Regions from separate parts of the Homo sapiens genome. Here region 1 is linked to region 2. A link means that fine-mapping ties the variant in region 2 to the expression of a gene that starts in the linked region. Tissue or cell type: whole blood. Region 2 holds a variant in brackets; the other region holds the start of a gene. All regions are shown on one strand. Distances are from middle to middle.

The links. PIP is the estimated chance that this variant, and not a neighbour inherited with it, causes the effect.
Region 1: it holds the start of PKN3, and the variant in region 2 is fine-mapped to the expression of PKN3 in whole blood (INTERVAL, PIP above 0.99).

The regions. Positions count from the first base shown.
Region 1 is chr9:128,698,248-128,706,247 of GRCh38, forward strand. PKN3 (protein kinase N3) reads left to right here and starts at 4,256. Exons shown (of 22, transcript NM_013355.5): 1 at 4,256-4,692; 2 at 7,056-7,296; 3 at 7,487-7,632. The coding sequence starts at 4,669. RefSeq lists a silencer at 4,149-4,718 and an enhancer at 4,533-5,072.
Region 2 is chr9:128,853,165-128,861,379 of GRCh38, forward strand. All of the region lies in intron 1 of KYAT1-SPOUT1 (KYAT1-SPOUT1 readthrough), which reads right to left. All of the region lies in intron 1 of KYAT1 (kynurenine aminotransferase 1), which reads right to left. Among named protein-coding and RNA genes, the nearest start is that of KYAT1, 25 kb to the right of the region's middle. The variant A/T (reference allele first, on the strand shown) is at 3,986.

The DNA.
Region 1 (8,000 bases), 160 kb before region 2:
GATCTCTGCTCACTGCAAGCTCCACCTCCCGGGTTCACACCATTCTCCTGCCTCAGCCTCCCGAGTAGCTGGGACGACATGCACTGGCCACCACACTCGGCTAATTTTTTGTATTTTTAGTAGAGACGGGGTTTCACCTTGTTAACCAGGATGGTCTTGATCTCCTGACCTCATGATCCACCCATCTTGGCCTCCCAAAGTGCTGGGATTACAGGCGTGAGCCACCGCGCCCAGCACAAGTTTACTTTTTAATAGGCCTGAGGCAAAGGGCTGCAGAATAGCAAGGACTTTTAAAGTGGAGGGTATAGACCAACTGTAGTTGGTGACATTGTGTGCTCAGATTCTACCCAGAGACAAACCGAAATAAAAATGGACTGGTTGTAGGGCCAGGCGCGGTGGCTCACGCCTGTAATCCCAGCACTTTGGGAGGCTGAGTGGGTGTTCACAAGGTCAGGAGTTCGAGACCAGCCTGGCCAACATGGGGAAACCCCATCTCTACTAAAAATACAAAAATTAGCCAGGCATGGTGGTGGGCGCCTGTAATCCCAGCTACTTGGGAGACTGAGGCAGGAGAATTGTTTGAACCCAGGAGGCGGAGGTTGCAGTGAACTGAGATCGTGCCACTGCACTCCAGCCTGGGCGACAGAGTGCGATGGCGTCTCAGAAAAAACAAAAATTGGTTGCAACACCAAGAAGGAAAAAATTGTATTCATGGAAGGGGGAAAATGTTTCCTCATGCAGCCTGTTGACAAGTTTTAGGTTCCTTTCAGTTGAGTTATAGTCTTTTTTTTTTTTTTTTTTTTGAGATGGAGTTCTGCCCTTTTTACCCAGGCTGTAGTGCAATGGCGCGATCTCAGCTCACCTCAATCTCCACCTCCCGGTTTCAAGCGATTCTCCTGCCTCAGCCTCCTGAGTAGCTGGGATTACAGGCATGCGCCACCACCCCGGCTAATTTTGTATTTTTAGTAGAGACGGGCTTTGTCCATGTTGGTCAGGCTGGTCTTGAACTCCCGACCTTACGTGATCCGCCCGCCTCGGCCTCTCAAAGTGTTGGGATTACAGGCGAGCCGCCGCGCCCAGTGAGTTATAGTCTTTTAAAGGCCAACTGGCTAGAGAGTTGGTTTGCACTATTCACGGTCCACTAAATGCTGAACACGAATTTCCTAAGAATTCCAGTCTTATGAAGTGTTATCACTATCAGAAGTAAGGTGCAACTACCTGGTCAGACTCATCCAGCAGTCCAGGACTTGGCTTCCCTGTGTAAGGTGGTGAAAAACACTCCCCAGGTCGGGCGCGGCAGCCACACCTGTAATCCCAGCACTTTGGTAGGCTGAGGCAGGTGCATCACGTGAGGTCAGGAGTTCGAGACTGGCCTGGCCAACATGGTGAAACCCCATCTCTACTAAAAATATAAAAAATTAGCCAGGTGTGCCGAGCGCGGTGGCTCCCGCCTGTAATCCCAGCACTTTGAGAGGCCGAGGCGAGCAGATCACAAGGTCAGAAGATCGAGACCATCCTGGCTAACACAGTGAAACCCCGTCTCTACTAAAAATACAAAAATTAGCCGGGCGTGGTGGTGGGCGCCTGTAGTCCCAGCTACTCGGGAGGCTGAGGCAGGAGAATGGCGTGAACCCTGGAGGCGGAGCTTGCAGTGAGCCGAGATCAGCCACTACACTCTAGCCTGGGCGAAAGTGCGAGACTCCGTCTCAAAGAAAAAAAAAAAAAAAAAAAAATTAGCCAGGTGTGGTGGCATGTGCCTGTAGTCCCAGCTACTCAGGAGGCTGAGGCATGAGAATCACTTGGACCCGGGAGGTGGAGGTTGCAGTGAGCCAAAATTGAGCCACTGCACTCCAGCCTGGGTGACAGAGCAAGACTCTCTCAAAAAAACAAAAAACAAAGCCACTTTCCAACCAAACTTGGAAAACCATCGAATTCAGCTTCCTGCCTGCAGTGAGTGGATAAATGAGCCGGGAGTTGAGATGTGAGCACCCTCCTATGGAGAGTTATCTCAGATTACTCTTGGCTTCCAGAAGTAACATTTAGCCATCAAGGCAAATACACATTTTAAAGTGTTAATTAGCTGGCTGGACTGATTGCACCACTGGAGAATTCCTAAAAGGTGGGGAAGGCTTGTTAGTTTGATTCCTGGGTTTTTGATGAGCTGCAGTGAGAAGCTGAGGACTTTTTTACTTCTTTATTTTACTTTTTTAAGAGATGGTGTCTCACTATGTTGGCCAGGTTGGTCTTGAACTCTTAGGCCTCAAGCAATCCTCCTGCCTCATCAGCCTCCCAGAGTTCTAGGATTACAGGCATGAGCCACTGGGCTTGGTCAGCCTTTTTGCTTCTAAATGATGGATAATAACGTTCATTTAACCTCCATTTTATTTTATTTTTATTTATTTATTTTTCTTGAGACAGAATCTTGCTCTGTTGCCCAGGCTGGAGTGTAGTGGCGTGATCTTAGCTCGCTGCAACCTCTGCCTCCCAGATTCAGGTGATTTGCCTGCCTCAGCCTCCCGAGTAGCTGGGACTACAGGCGTGCGCTACCACGCCCAGCTAGTTTTTCTAATTTTTTATTTTATGTATTTTTTTGAGATGCAGTTTTGCTCTTGTCATCTAGGCTGGAGTGTAGTGGCGAGATTGGCTTACTGCAACCTCCACTTCCCAGGTTCAAGTGATTCTCCAGCCTCAGCCTCCCTAGTAGCTGGGATTACAGGCACCCACCACCATGCCCAGCTAATATTTTTTTTTTGTAGTTTTAGTAGAGACGGGGTTTCACCATGTTGGCCAGGCTGGTCTCGAACTCCTGACCTTGTGATCCGCCTGCCTCGGCCTCCCAAAGTGCTAGGATTACAGGCGTGAGCCACCGCGCCCAGCTGCCTTTTTAATTTTTTTTTAGCAGAGACGGGATTTCACCATGTTGGCCAGGCTGGTCTTGAACTCCTGACCTTAAGTGATCTGCCCTCCTCAGCCTCCCAAAGTGCTGGGATTACAGGCATGAGCCACCATGCCCAGCCAACCCCCATGTCAAAGAACCTACTATGTGCCAGGTGCTTCTGCTAATGTCTAGACCTCAACAACTCTAATGTGTAAATGTCACATTTCGCCTCTGATTATGAAATCTGGGCATGTTTCACAGAGCCAAGTTGCCTTTGCTTATATGTCAATGCCACTTGGGTGATTTCCCATAGCAGGACAACCCAGTGTTGTCCATGGCTCACCAATTTCACTTTTTTCCAGTCCATTATGAAGGAAGTGATTAGTGCAAAGCACAACATGTGGCTTCCTTCATTCAGTAAGAGCACCAGAGCCTGTCTGTTCCAAGTCACTGTCGGTATTTGACCCTTCATCACCTTCCCACCTCCTGGAGGACGCTCCTCCACGAAGTGCTGACACAACCTCCTGTAAACGCAGGATGCCAGGACGGGCTGAATGGCCCGCCATAGACTAGGCAGTGACCAGCACACCTCCCTTGGGCTGAAATAGTGGCGGCTATTTCACCAGGTGTAAATGGCTTTTCTCCCGTGTGGATGGATGGGCTTTTTAGGGTAAAGCCCTAAAAAGTGGCACGGGCTGAACCAGCAAGCTCAGTCTGAGTAAGAGATGGGCCGGAGAGAGGTCTGGTTCATTCATCTGTAATTTGTAATTTATCATAATTTTGGGTGAGGATTTACTTTTCCACAAGTATACGTTCTTTTTTTTTTTTTTTTTTTTTTTTTGAGATGGAGTCTCGCTCTGTCACCCAGGTTGGAGGGCAGTGGCAGGATCTCGGCTCACTGCAACCTCCGCCTACTGGGTACAAGTGATTCTCCCACCTCAGCCTCCTGAGTAGCTGGGATTACAGGCGCCCGCCACCACGACCGGCTAATTTTTGTATTTTTAGTAGAGACGGGGGTTTCACCATGTTGGCCAGGCTGGTCTCGAACTCCTGACCTCGTGATCCGTCCACCTCTGCCTCCCAAACTGCTGGGATTACAGGCGTGAGCCACCGCACCTGGCCTAGTATACATTCTTGTAGTGACTAATATCTAGTCTGGGCCAACCACTCCGAGGAGAGAGACAATTTTGGATTAGCCCACATTACACCAACAACGTGCGAGACAAAGAGAGACTTGAGGGGCTTGGTCGAGGAGGCCCAGCGCGTTAGAGGCGGGAGCCAGGTTGTAGAGGGGCTCAAAGTTAGAGGAGGCGGCCAGCTCCACCGGCTGCACCCGGCTGGGCGACCCGGCAACCTTCAGGGGGCGCTGTTTCCCCCATCCCTGTCCCTAACTGGCCGGCTCCCGCGGGCGCGCGGCGGGGAAGGCCAGAGGACCTGGGCGCGGGCGATGTGCCTCCTGAGCGTCCAAACCGGGGGTGAGGCGCGGTCACGCCCAGCGGGAACCGCAGGCGCCGAAGCCCGGGTACTGGGCCCAGAATCCCGCGGAATTTTGGATCCGAGGGAGGCGCTGGGGCGCGGGACCTCGGGCGTGGGGTCCCGGGCGCTGGATCGGCGCGGACGGGAGGCGGCGCTGGTCCCGCGGGCCAGCGGGTCTCGGGAGGGGGCGCCCGATCCCGCGTCTCCGGCGCCGCTTCCCGGGAAGTTTCAAGTTTGAAAGTCCTGGCGGAGGGTCTGCGGCTTCCGGGACCGGAGTGGCTGAGAGAAGGGCCCCAAGCGGCCGGAGCGGCGCCATGGAGGAGGGGGCGCCGCGGCAGGTGAACGGCGTGGGAGGGGCGCGCGGGCCCGGGGGGTGCGAGAAAGCCTCTGTCATCGCCCCGGAGCCCCGAACCGCGGCCGCTTCCCCCGATCCTCCCCTCACCCGCGCCCCTTCCCTGCCCCTGCCCTGGCCCCGGCCCCGCGACGCCCTCGCAGAGCAGACCTGATCTCCGGGTTCGGTGGTTCCTGGACCTTGCACAGTCTCCAAATCAGTCCGCGGCTGACCCGGAGACTGAACCCCAACCAGCCCGTGAGCGAGGACGGCTGAGTCCGCAGTGTGCGCCACCAGGGTGGTCCCCAGAGTGTCCTTAAGTCGGTTCTCCTCGGTGGGGCTCCAAGGCCGACGGGAATTAGCCGGGATAGAAAGGCGGGGCACAGGGGCCTGGGGGGGTTAGAATGTGCGCGCAGCGGGGGGCGCAGTCTGTGCGCGCTTGGCAGTGGCAGGAGTCCTTCCCGGAGCACAGGAGGCACGAGGGGAGCGTAGATGAGAGGGGAGCGGCCTCCCCCGCCCCAGGGCGGGAACCTTTGGGTACATAGCGGGTTCTAGAATGCGGAGGGGGCTGGGTTTCCTGCCAGAGCTGGCAGTAGGTGCGCGTGGGCCCGGAGGACCGAGGCCATGTCTATCTGCTCCTGAGGAGGGAGAGGTGGTGTCCTGTTCCGGAGCGAGTGGTTGGGAGGGGGGCATTTGCGGACAGGAGTGGGTCCCCGCAAAGAGCGGAAAGGAGGTGGTGTGTGTGTCCATGTTGGAGTTCCAACCCAGGGCAGACGGGACCATGGGGGTGTTGCGGGGTGCGTGTAGACTCCTTGAGCGCCCAAGCCAGTCGTTTAGGCCGCCTTCAGGGCTGGGGCTCGGTCTGCCCCCTCCCACCCCCTTCCTCTGGAGGTCCCTCCGCCTGTTCCAGACGTAGCTTGTACACATTTTCCGATTTCCTGCGGGGCTCCGCCCTGCAGCGGCAGCTGGGTGACTCAGGACCCCGGTGGCCGGGCCCCCAGCTCCATGGGACCTTTGTTTGCTCCGGTCTTTGGCTCTGGCCCTGTGGCCTAGGGCGGTCAGAGGATTTCCTGAGCCTCGCCCTTGCCCTCTGACAGCTGGGCCAGCAGGCCCCGCTGAGGTCTGGGGTGGGGGGGTCCCTGAGTCTGGGGTTGCGGCCCCTTCCACTGGGCTCAGGAGAAGATGGAACACAGAGAGGTAAGATGGGGTTCCTGCAACAGCCCGTGTTGCGGGGCATCATGGGTTACCCGGCCTGAGGTCACCTTTGGCACCGGTTGGTTTGAAATGCTGGCGGCTGGAAAGGAGGTGTTCCTGTTCCTGGCTCCAACCTGGGTGAAGCCGTGAGAGAGCCTTCTACTTCCTCCCGGGAGCTGAGCAGGGAGTGGGCACCCGGAGACCTCCCCAGTTCCTCTCTGTGCCTCTGCTTTGCTACCTGTGGCATTGGGACATCAGGGGAACAAGCCCTGGCTCCCAGGCCCCTGGCTGCCTTCTCATGTGGCTTCGTGTGAACCCCTATTCGGCGTAGCTTTTGTGGCTCCTGGACTCTACTTTGGGTCCCAGATGTAGAGAGAGCAGCCTGATTACCCAGGGCTGCCAGGGACAGCTGGGGCCCGAGAGATGGTGGCCCCTCCTCTGTGTCTTGACTGTGGGCAAGTTACTTCACCTCTCTGGGCCTCAGTTTCCTCACTAGAAAATAGGGGTAATAGTACAGGCGTGGTGGCTCACACCTGTAATCCCAGCACTTTGGGAGGCCAAGGCAGGTGGATCACCTGAGGTCAGGATTCAAGACCAGCCTGACGAACATGGAGAAACCCCGTCCCTACTAAAAATACAAAATTAGCCGGGCTTAGTGGCGTGTGCCTGTAATCCCAGCTACTCAGGAGGCTGGGGCAGGAGAATCGCTTGAACCCGGGAGGCAGAGGTTGTGGTGAACCGAGATCGTGCCATGGCACTCCAGCCTGGGCAACAAGAGCAAAACTGTCTCAAAAAAAAAAAAAAGAAAAAGAAAAAGAAAAAAGAAAATGGGGGTAATGACCACCGCTACCGGGTGGGGTGGCTGGGAGGAGTGATGTGGTAATATATGCAAAGCACTTAGAATAGAACCTGGCACCCATTTACCGTGTGAACTGTCCCCCCCGCCACATCCTTCTCTAACGGGCGGAGGACAGGAGCCTGGCCTAGATGAGTGGCCTCGGAGTTTCCATCTGGCTCAGGCCTGAGCTCTAAGGGGAGAGAGGCTTCCAAAACCCTGTGCGAGTCAGTCCTGGGTGCCGTCCCTTCCTTCGCCTCCATCTGCAGTGAGCAAAGGCTGCTGGTGGCCGCTGCACCCCATGGCTGTTCTCCACCCTCTGCTTTCCACCGGCTCTGCAGCCTGGGCCGAGCCAGTGGCCCCCAGAGGATGAGAAGGAGGTGATCCGCCGGGCCATCCAGAAAGAGCTGAAGATCAAGGAGGGGGTGGAGAACCTGCGGCGCGTGGCCACAGACCGCCGCCACTTGGGCCATGTGCAGCAGCTGCTGCGGTCCTCCAACCGCCGCCTGGAGCAGCTGCATGGCGAGCTGCGGGAGCTGCACGCCCGAATCCTGCTGCCCGGCCCTGGGCCTGGCCCAGCTGGTGAGTGAGGAGCTGAGACCCCCTCAGGACAGAAGGCTCTAGGCCCATCTGGCCCCTGGCCTTGGCCCTGGCCACTGTGGCGAGACCACCTCATTTCCTGCCTATAGATCAGTAGGGGAAGGAGGAAAGGCCACAGTGGGGGTCTCGGCTCTGGGTGAGGGACTCCTGTGCTCGATACCCCCGTGCACAGAGCCTGTGGCCTCAGGACCCCGGCCGTGGGCAGAGCAGCTCAGGGCTCGGCACCTAGAGGCTCTCCGGAGGCAGCTGCATGTGGAGCTGAAGGTGAAGCAGGGGGCTGAGAACATGACCCACACGTGCGCCAGTGGCACCCCCAAGGTAAGGCCCCACAGTCTGATGGCAGGAGCACCCTGGCCCCTGGTCTGACAGGGAAATGCACCTCAGCCATTGGGCTCATAAGGAGACACCATTCCAGCCTGCAGCCTGATGGGGAAAATACAGCCCCAAACCCCAGCTGGGTGAGGAAGGCATGGCTGTAGTCTCTAGTGTGACAGAGAAGGCCTTGCCCTGGTCTAATGGGATCCTAGCCCAGCCCCAGTCCCAACTCCCAGCATGATGTCCAGAACTGGGCCTCAGTCCTTGTCTGACAAGAAGACTTGGCTGTGGCCCTGATATGATGACGGAGGCAGGACCTTAGCCTTGATCTAATGGGGGAGGCTTAGCTTAGCCCCTGCCCTGATCTGATG
Region 2 (8,215 bases):
TTAGACAAGCTTTTATCAATTCTGCTGCATGCCAGATTGGTCTTGCTGATTTTGTGGGAATTATTGACAATCATTACCCAAAAACAAAAATCTTCCAGTTCTTAAAATTGATTACTTGGATTTTACCTAAAATTACCAGATATAAACCTTTAGAAAATGCTCTGATGGCGTTTACTGATTGTTCCAGCAATGGAAAAGTGGCTTAAACTGGGCCAAAAGAACAAGTCATTGAAACTCAATATCACTCAGCTCAAAGAGCAGAGTTGGTTGCTGTCATTTCAGTGTTACAAGGTTTTAATCAGCCTATTAACATTGTTTCAGATTCTGCATATGTAGTACAGGCTACAAAGGATGTTGAGACAGCCCTAATCAAATATAGTATGGATGATCAGTTAAATCAGCTGTTTAATTCGTTACAACAAACTGTAAGAAAAAGAAATTTCCCATTTTATATTACTCATATTCGAACACATACTAATTTACCAGGGCCTTTAACTAAGGCAAATGAACAAGCTGACTTGCTAGTATCATCTGCATTCATAAAAGCATAAAAACTTCGTGCCTTGACTCATGTAAATGCATCAGGACTAAAAAATAAATTTGATATCATATGAAAACAGGCAAAAAATGTTGTACAACATTGTACTCAGTGTCAAGTCCTACATGTGCCCACTCAGGAGGCAGGAGTTAATCCCAGAGGTTTATGTCCCAATGCATTATGGCAAATGGATGTCACACATGTACCTTCATTTGGAAAATTGTCATTTGTCCATGTGACAGTTGATACTTATTCACATTTCATATGGGCAACCTGCCAGACAGGAGAAAATACTTCCCATGTTAAAAGACATTTATTATCTTGTTTTGCTGTCATGGGAGTTCCATAAAAAATTAAAACAGATAATGGGCCAGGATACTGTAGTAAAGCATTTCAAAAATTCTTAAATCAGTGGAAAATTACACACACAACAGAAATCCCTTATAATTCCCAAGGACAGGCCATAATTGAAAGAAGTAATAGAACACTCAAAGCTCAATTGGTTAAACAAAAAAAGGAAAAGGACAGTAAGGAATATAACACTCCCCAGATGCAACTTAATCTAGCACTCTATACTTTAAATTTTTTTAACATTTATAGAAATCAGACCGCTACTTCTGCAGAACAACATTTTACTGGTAAAAAGAACAGCCCACATGAGGAAAAACTGATTTGGTAAAAAGACAACAAAAATAAAACATAAAAAATAGAGAAGGTGATAACGTGGGGGAGAGGTTTTGCTCGTGTTTCACCAGGAGAAAATCAGCTTCCAGTTTGGGTACCTACAACTTACAGAAAAAGTTGCCATCCACCAAAAAAGCGAAGCCGCCGACCTGGGCCCAGCTAAAGAAGCTGACACAGTTAGCTGAAAAAAGCCTAAAGTACACAAGGGTAACACAAACTCCAGAGAATATGCTGCTTGCAGCTTTAATGATTGTATCAATGGTGGTAAGTCTCACTATGTCTGCAGGAGCAGCTGCAGCTAATTATACTTACTGGGCCTATGTGCCTTTCCCGCCCTTAATTCAGGCAGTCACTTGGATGGATAATATTCTATTGAAGTATGTGTTAATATTAGTGCATGGGTACCAGGACCCACAGATGACCGCGGCCCTGCCCAACCTGAAGAAGAAGGAATGATGATAAACATTTCCACTGGGTATCATTATCCTCCTATTTGCCTGGGGAAAGCACCAGGATGCTTAATGCCTACAACCCAAAATTGGTTGGTAGAAGTATCTACTGTCAGTGCCACCAATAAATTTACTTATCATATGGTAAGTGGAATGTCACTTGGGTCACAAATGAATAATTTACAGGACTCTTCTTATCAAAGATCATTAAAATTTAGGCCTAAGGGGACCTTGCCTCAAGGAAATTCCCAAAGAATCAAAAGACCCAGAAGTCTTAGTTTGGGAAAAATATGTGGCTGATACTGTGGTGGTATTACAAAACAATAAATTTGGAACTATTATAGACTGGGCCCCTCAAAACCAATTATATTATGGTTGTATGGGCCAGACTCACTCATGTTCACAGACCCCATCTGTCTGGCCCACTAATCCGGCCTATGATAGTGATTTAACTGAAAGGCTAGACCAGGTTTATAGAAGGCTAGAATCACCCTATCCATGGAAATGGGGTGAAAAGGGGATTTCATCACCTCAACCAAAGTTAGTTAGTCCTGTTACTGCTCCTGAACATCCAGCATTATGAAAGCTTACTGTGGCCTCGCACCACATTAGAATTTGGTCTGGAAATCAAGTTATCGGAACAAGAAATCATAAGCCACATTATACTATTAACCTAAATTCCAATCCGACAATTCCTTTGCAAAGTTGTGTAAAACCCTCTTATATGCTAGTTGTAGGAAACATAGTTATTAAACCAGATTCCCAAACTATAACCTGTGAAAATTGTAGATTGTTTACTTGCATTGATTCAACTTTTGATTGGCAGCACCATATTCTGCCAGTGAGGGCAAGAGAGGGTGTGTGGATCCCTGTGTCCATGGACCGACCGTGGGAGGCTTCCCCATCCATCCATATTTTAACAGAAGTATTAAAAGGAGTTCTAACTAGATCCAAAAGATTCATTTTTTACTTTAATTGCAGTGATTATGGGTCTTATTGCAGTCACAGCTACTGCTGCGGCTGCTGGAATTGCTTTACACTCCTCTGTTCAAACTACAAAATATATAAATAATTGGCAAAAGAACTCCTCAAAATTGTGGAATTCTCAGACTCAAATAGACCAAAAATTGGCAAACCAAATTAATGATCGTAGACAAACTGTCATTTGAATGAGAGATAGGCTCATGAGCTTAGAATATCTTTTTCAGTTACAGTGTGACTGGAATATGTCAGATTTTTGTATTACACCTCGAGCCTATAATGAATCTGAACATCACTGGGACATGGTTAGACGCCATCTACAAGGAAGAGAAGATAACCTTACTTTAGATATTTTAAAATTAAAATAACAAATTTTTGAGGCATCAAAAGCCCAGTTCAATCTGGTGCCAGAAACTGAGGCAATGGTGAAAGCTGCTGATGGCCTCACAAATCTTAACCCCATCACTTGGGTTAAAACCACTGGAAGTTCCACTATTGCAAATTTTGTATTAATCCTTGTATGTCTGTTCTCTGTTGCTGGTCTACAGGTGTATCCAGCAGCTCCAGAGAGACAGCAACCAGCGAAAACAGGCCATAATGACTATGGCGGTTTTGTCAAAAAGAAAAGGGGGATATGTACGGCAAAGAAAGAGAGATCAGACTGTTACTGTGTCTATGTAGAAAGGGAAGACATAAGAAATTCCATTTTGACCTGTACCTTGAACAATTGCTTTGCTGAGATGTTGTTAATTTGTAACTTTGCCCCAGCCACTTTGCCCCAACTTTGAGCTCACAAAAACATGTGTTGTCTGGAATCAAGGTTTAAGGGATCTAGGGCTGTGCAGGATATGCCTTGTTAACAAAATGTTTACAAGCAGTATGCTTGGTAAAAGTCATCGCCATTCTCTAATCTCAATAAACCAGGGGCACAACGCACTGCGGAAAGCCGCACGGACCTCTGCCTTGGAAAGCCACGTATTGTCCAAGGTTTCTCCCCATGTGATAATCTGAAATATGGCCTTGTGGGATGAGAAAGACCTGACTGTCCCCCAGCCCAACACCCGTAAAGGGTCTGTGCTGAGGTAGATTAGTAAAAGAGGAAAGCCTCTTGAAGTTGAAATAGAGGAAGGCCACTGTCTCCTGCCTGCCCCTGGGAACTGAATGTCTCGGTATAAAACCTGATTATACATTTGTTCAATTCTGAGATAGGAGAAAAACCGCCCTATGGCGGGAGGCGAGACATGTTGGCAGCAATGCTGCCTTGTTATTCTTTACTCCACTGAGATGTTTGGGCGGGGAGAAACATAAATCCGGCCTACGTGCACATGCAGGC[A/T]TAGTACCTCCCCTTGAACTTAATTATGACATAGATTCTTTTGCTCACATGTTTTTTTGCTGACCTTCTCCTTATTATCACCCTGCTCTCCTACTGCATTCCTCTTGCTGAGATAATAAAAATAATAATCAATAAAAAGTGAGGAAACTCAGAAACCGATGCTGGTGCAGGTCCTTGATATGCTGCTTGCCAGTCTCCTGGGCCCACTGTTGTCTCTATACTTCATCTCTGTGTCTTACTTCTTTTCTCAGTCTCTCGTCCCACCTGATGAGATACCCACAGGTGTGGAGGGACAGGCCACCGCTTCACTCAGCTTCCCAAAGTGCTGAAATTACATGCGTGAGCCATGTGCCCTGCCCCATACACAAAAATTAATTCAAAGTGAATCACATAACTAAATGTATGGGCTGGGGACGGTGTCTCACGCCTGTAATCCCAGCACTTTGGGAGGCCAGGGCAGGCGGATCATAAGGTCAGGAGATCAAGACCATCCTGGCTAACACAGTGAAACCCCGTCTCTACTAAAAATACAAAAAATTAGCTGGGCGTGGTGGTGGGCACCTGCAGTCCCAGCTGCTCTGGAGGCTGAGGCAGGAGAATGGCGTGAACCCGGGAGGCGGAGCTTGCAGTGAGCAGAGATCACGCCACTGCACTCCAGCCTGGGCGACACAGCGAGACTCCGTCTCAAAACAAACAAACAAACAAAAAACAAAACTAAATGTATGAACTAAAACAAGAAAACTAGAAGAAAACATAGGAATAAATCTCTGTGACCTTGGGGTTCTAGACATAACATCCAAAGCATACACAACAAAAGAAAAAATAAACTGGACCTCATCAAAATTAAGAACTTTTGTGCTTCAAGGATACCCATTAAGAAAATGAAAAGACAGCCCATGGAATGGAAGGAAATATCTGCAAATCATAAATCTGAATGTTTCCAAAAAAGATACACAAACAGCCAAGGCTGGGCACGGTGGCTCACGTCTGTAATCCCAGCACTTTGGGAGGCTGAGGTGGGTGGGTCACCTGAGGTCAGGAGTTTGAGACCAGCCTGGCCAACACGACAAAACCCCATCTCTACCAAAAATACAAAAATTAGCTGGGCGAAGTCACATGCACCTGTAGTCCCAGCTACTTAGGAGGCTGAGGTACGAGAATCGCTTGAGCTCAGGAGGCAGAGGTTGCAATGAGCCAAAATTGCTCCACTGCACTCCAGCCTGGGCAACAGAGTGAGACCATGTATAAAAAAAAAAAAAAAAAAAAGCCCGGGCATGGTGGCTCATACCTGTAATCACAGCACTTTGGGAGGCCAAGGCGGGCAGATCACCTAAGGTCAGGAGTCTGAGACCAGCCTGACCAATATGATGAAACCCCATCTCTACTAAAACTACAAAAATTAGCCAGGCGTGATGGCATGCACCTGTAATCCCAGCTACTTGGAAGGCTGAGACTGGAGAATCACTTGAATCCGAGAGTCGGAGGTTGCAGTGAGCCACTGCACCATTGCACTCCAGCCTGGGCAACAAAAGTGAAATTCCATCTCAAAAAACAAAAAAAGAAAAAGAATGTTTTAGGCCAGGCCCGGTGGCTCACGCTTATAATTCCAGCACTTCGGGAGGCTGAGGTGGGCAGATCACTTGAGGTCAGGAGTTTGAGACCAGACTGGCCAACACGGTGAAATCCTGTCTGTACTAACAACACAAAAATTAGCTGGACATGGTGGCTCATACCTGTAATCCCAGCTACTCGGGAGGCTGAGGCAAGGGAATTGCTTGGAGGCTAAAGTGAGCTGAGATTGTGCGTTGCACTCCAGCCTGGGTGACAGAACAAGACTCCATCTCAAAAAAAAAAAAAAAGCAAAGAAAAGAAAAGAAAGAAAAAGAGTATTTTGGAGGAATGCTCTGGCATACTTAAAAATAGTTACCCTTGGCCAGGCACGGTGACTCACGCCTGTAATCCCAGCATTTTGGGAGGCCAAGGCAGGCGGATCACGAGGTCAGGAGATCGAGACCATCCTGGCTAACACGGCGAAACCCTGTCTCTACTAAAAATACAGAAATTAGCCAGGTGTGGTGGTGGGCACCTGTAGTCCCAGCTACTCGGGAGGCTGAGGCAGGAGAATGTCGTGAACCCAGGAGGCTGAACCTGCAGTGAGCTGAGATCGCGCCACTGCACTCCAGCCTGGGCAACAGAGGGAGACTCCGTCTCAACAACAAAAAAAAAAGTTACTCTCAGCTGGGTGCAGTGGCTCCTGCCTGTAATCCCAGCACTTTGGGAGGCTGAGGTGGGTGGATCACCTGAGGTCAGGAGTTTGAGACCAGCCTGGTCAACATGGTGAAACCCCATCTCTACTAAAAATACAAAAATTAGCTGGGTGTGGTGGCGCATGCCTGTAATCTCCCAGCTACTCAGGAGGCTGAGACAGGAGAATTGCTTGAACCCAGGAGGTGGAGGTTGCAGTGAGCCGAGATCGTGCTGGTGAGCCACCTTGCCCAGCCATTTTTTTTTTTTTTTGAGACAGAATCTCGCTCTGTTGCCCAGGCTGGAGCGCAGTGGCGCGATCTCGGCTCACTGCAAGCTCTGCCTCCCAGGTTCACACCATTCTCCTGCCTCAGCCTCCTAAGTAGCTGGGACTACAGGTGCCCGCCATCACACCCAGCTAATTTTTTGTATTTTTAGTAGAGACAGGGTTTCACCGTGTTAGCCAGGATGATCTCGATCTCCTGACCTCGTGACCCACCCGCCTCGGCCTCCCAAAGTGCATGAGAGGGGATTTATAGGGAAATTGACTCACGCAATTAATGGAGGCTGAGAAGTCCCCTGAGAGACTATTTGCAAGAGGTGCCAGTAGCGTGGCTCAGTCCAAGTCTGCAAGCCTCAGAACCAGGGACGCCACTGGGATAATTCTCAGTCCAAGGCTGAAGAGCCTAGAGTTTTGATATCCAAAGGGCAGGAGAAGGAGAATCTTCCAGCTCCAGGAGAGACAGAGACAGAAAGAGGAAAATTTTCTCCTCTTTTGTTTTTATTCAAGCCGTGAACCAATTGCATACTGCCACCCACATTGAGAGCGGATCTTCCCCACTCAGTCCACTGACTCCCACGCCAATCTCCTCTGGAAACACCCTCACAGACACACCCAGAAGTCATGTTTCACCATTCTCTAGGTATTCCTTACTCCAGTCCAGCTGCCACCTAACATTAACCAGCAGCACACATCCACGCTGCCAGACATTCGTCAGTTGCAGTTCAGGTTTTCCCACCCAGGTGCTGATTCCAGGGAAGGTTTCTGCTCTGGCAAATCATGATTCTCTGTATCTACCTTTCTGCCTCTCCAGTTTGGGGGCAGCAGGTTACCCTGTGACCTAATTTTCTGATGAACTGAAAAAGAGCCGCTGGTTTTTCAGTTTGTTCAGCCTTTTTTTTTTTTTTTTGAAACGGAGTCTTGCTTTGTCGCCCAGGGTGGAGTGCAGTTGCGCAATCTCGGCTCACTGCAAGCTCCGCCTCCTGGGTTCAAGCGATTCTCCTGCCTCAGCCTAAGTAACTGGGATTACAGTCGCATTCCACCATGCCTGGCTAATTTTTGTATTTTTAGTAGAGATGGGGTTTCACTATGTTGGTCAGACTGGTCTCGAACTCCTGACCTTAGGTGATCTGCCCACCTCGGCCTCCCAAAGTGCTGGGATTACAGTTGTGAGCCACTGCCTCCGGCCCACACGCATTTATTAAGTTTACCATCTTATATGGGCATGGTTTGTGGTTCCCCAAAACAAGCACAATAGTAATATCAAAGATCACTGATCACAGATCACCGTGTCAGACATAATAATAATGATAAAGTTTGAACTATTGTGGGAATTACACACAGACCCTAAGGGAACACATTCTGTTGGAACAATGGGAACAATAGACTTGCTTGGTGCAAGGTTCTCACAAAGCTTCAATTTGCAAAGACCGTGATATCTGCCAAACGCAATACAATGAAGTGTGGCTAGTTTGTTACAACAGCCTTAGGAATCAAATCCAAGGTGATGGGGTTGAGCTGTGTCCCCACCCAAATCTCATCTTGAATTGCAGTTCTCATAATTCCCACGTGTCCTGGGAGGGACCCAGTGGGAGGTAATTGAATCATGGGGGCAGTTACCCCCATGCTGCTGTGCTGGCGATAATGAGTGAGTTCTCATGAGAGCTGATGGTTTTATAAAGAGCTTTTCCCCCTTTGCTCAGCAG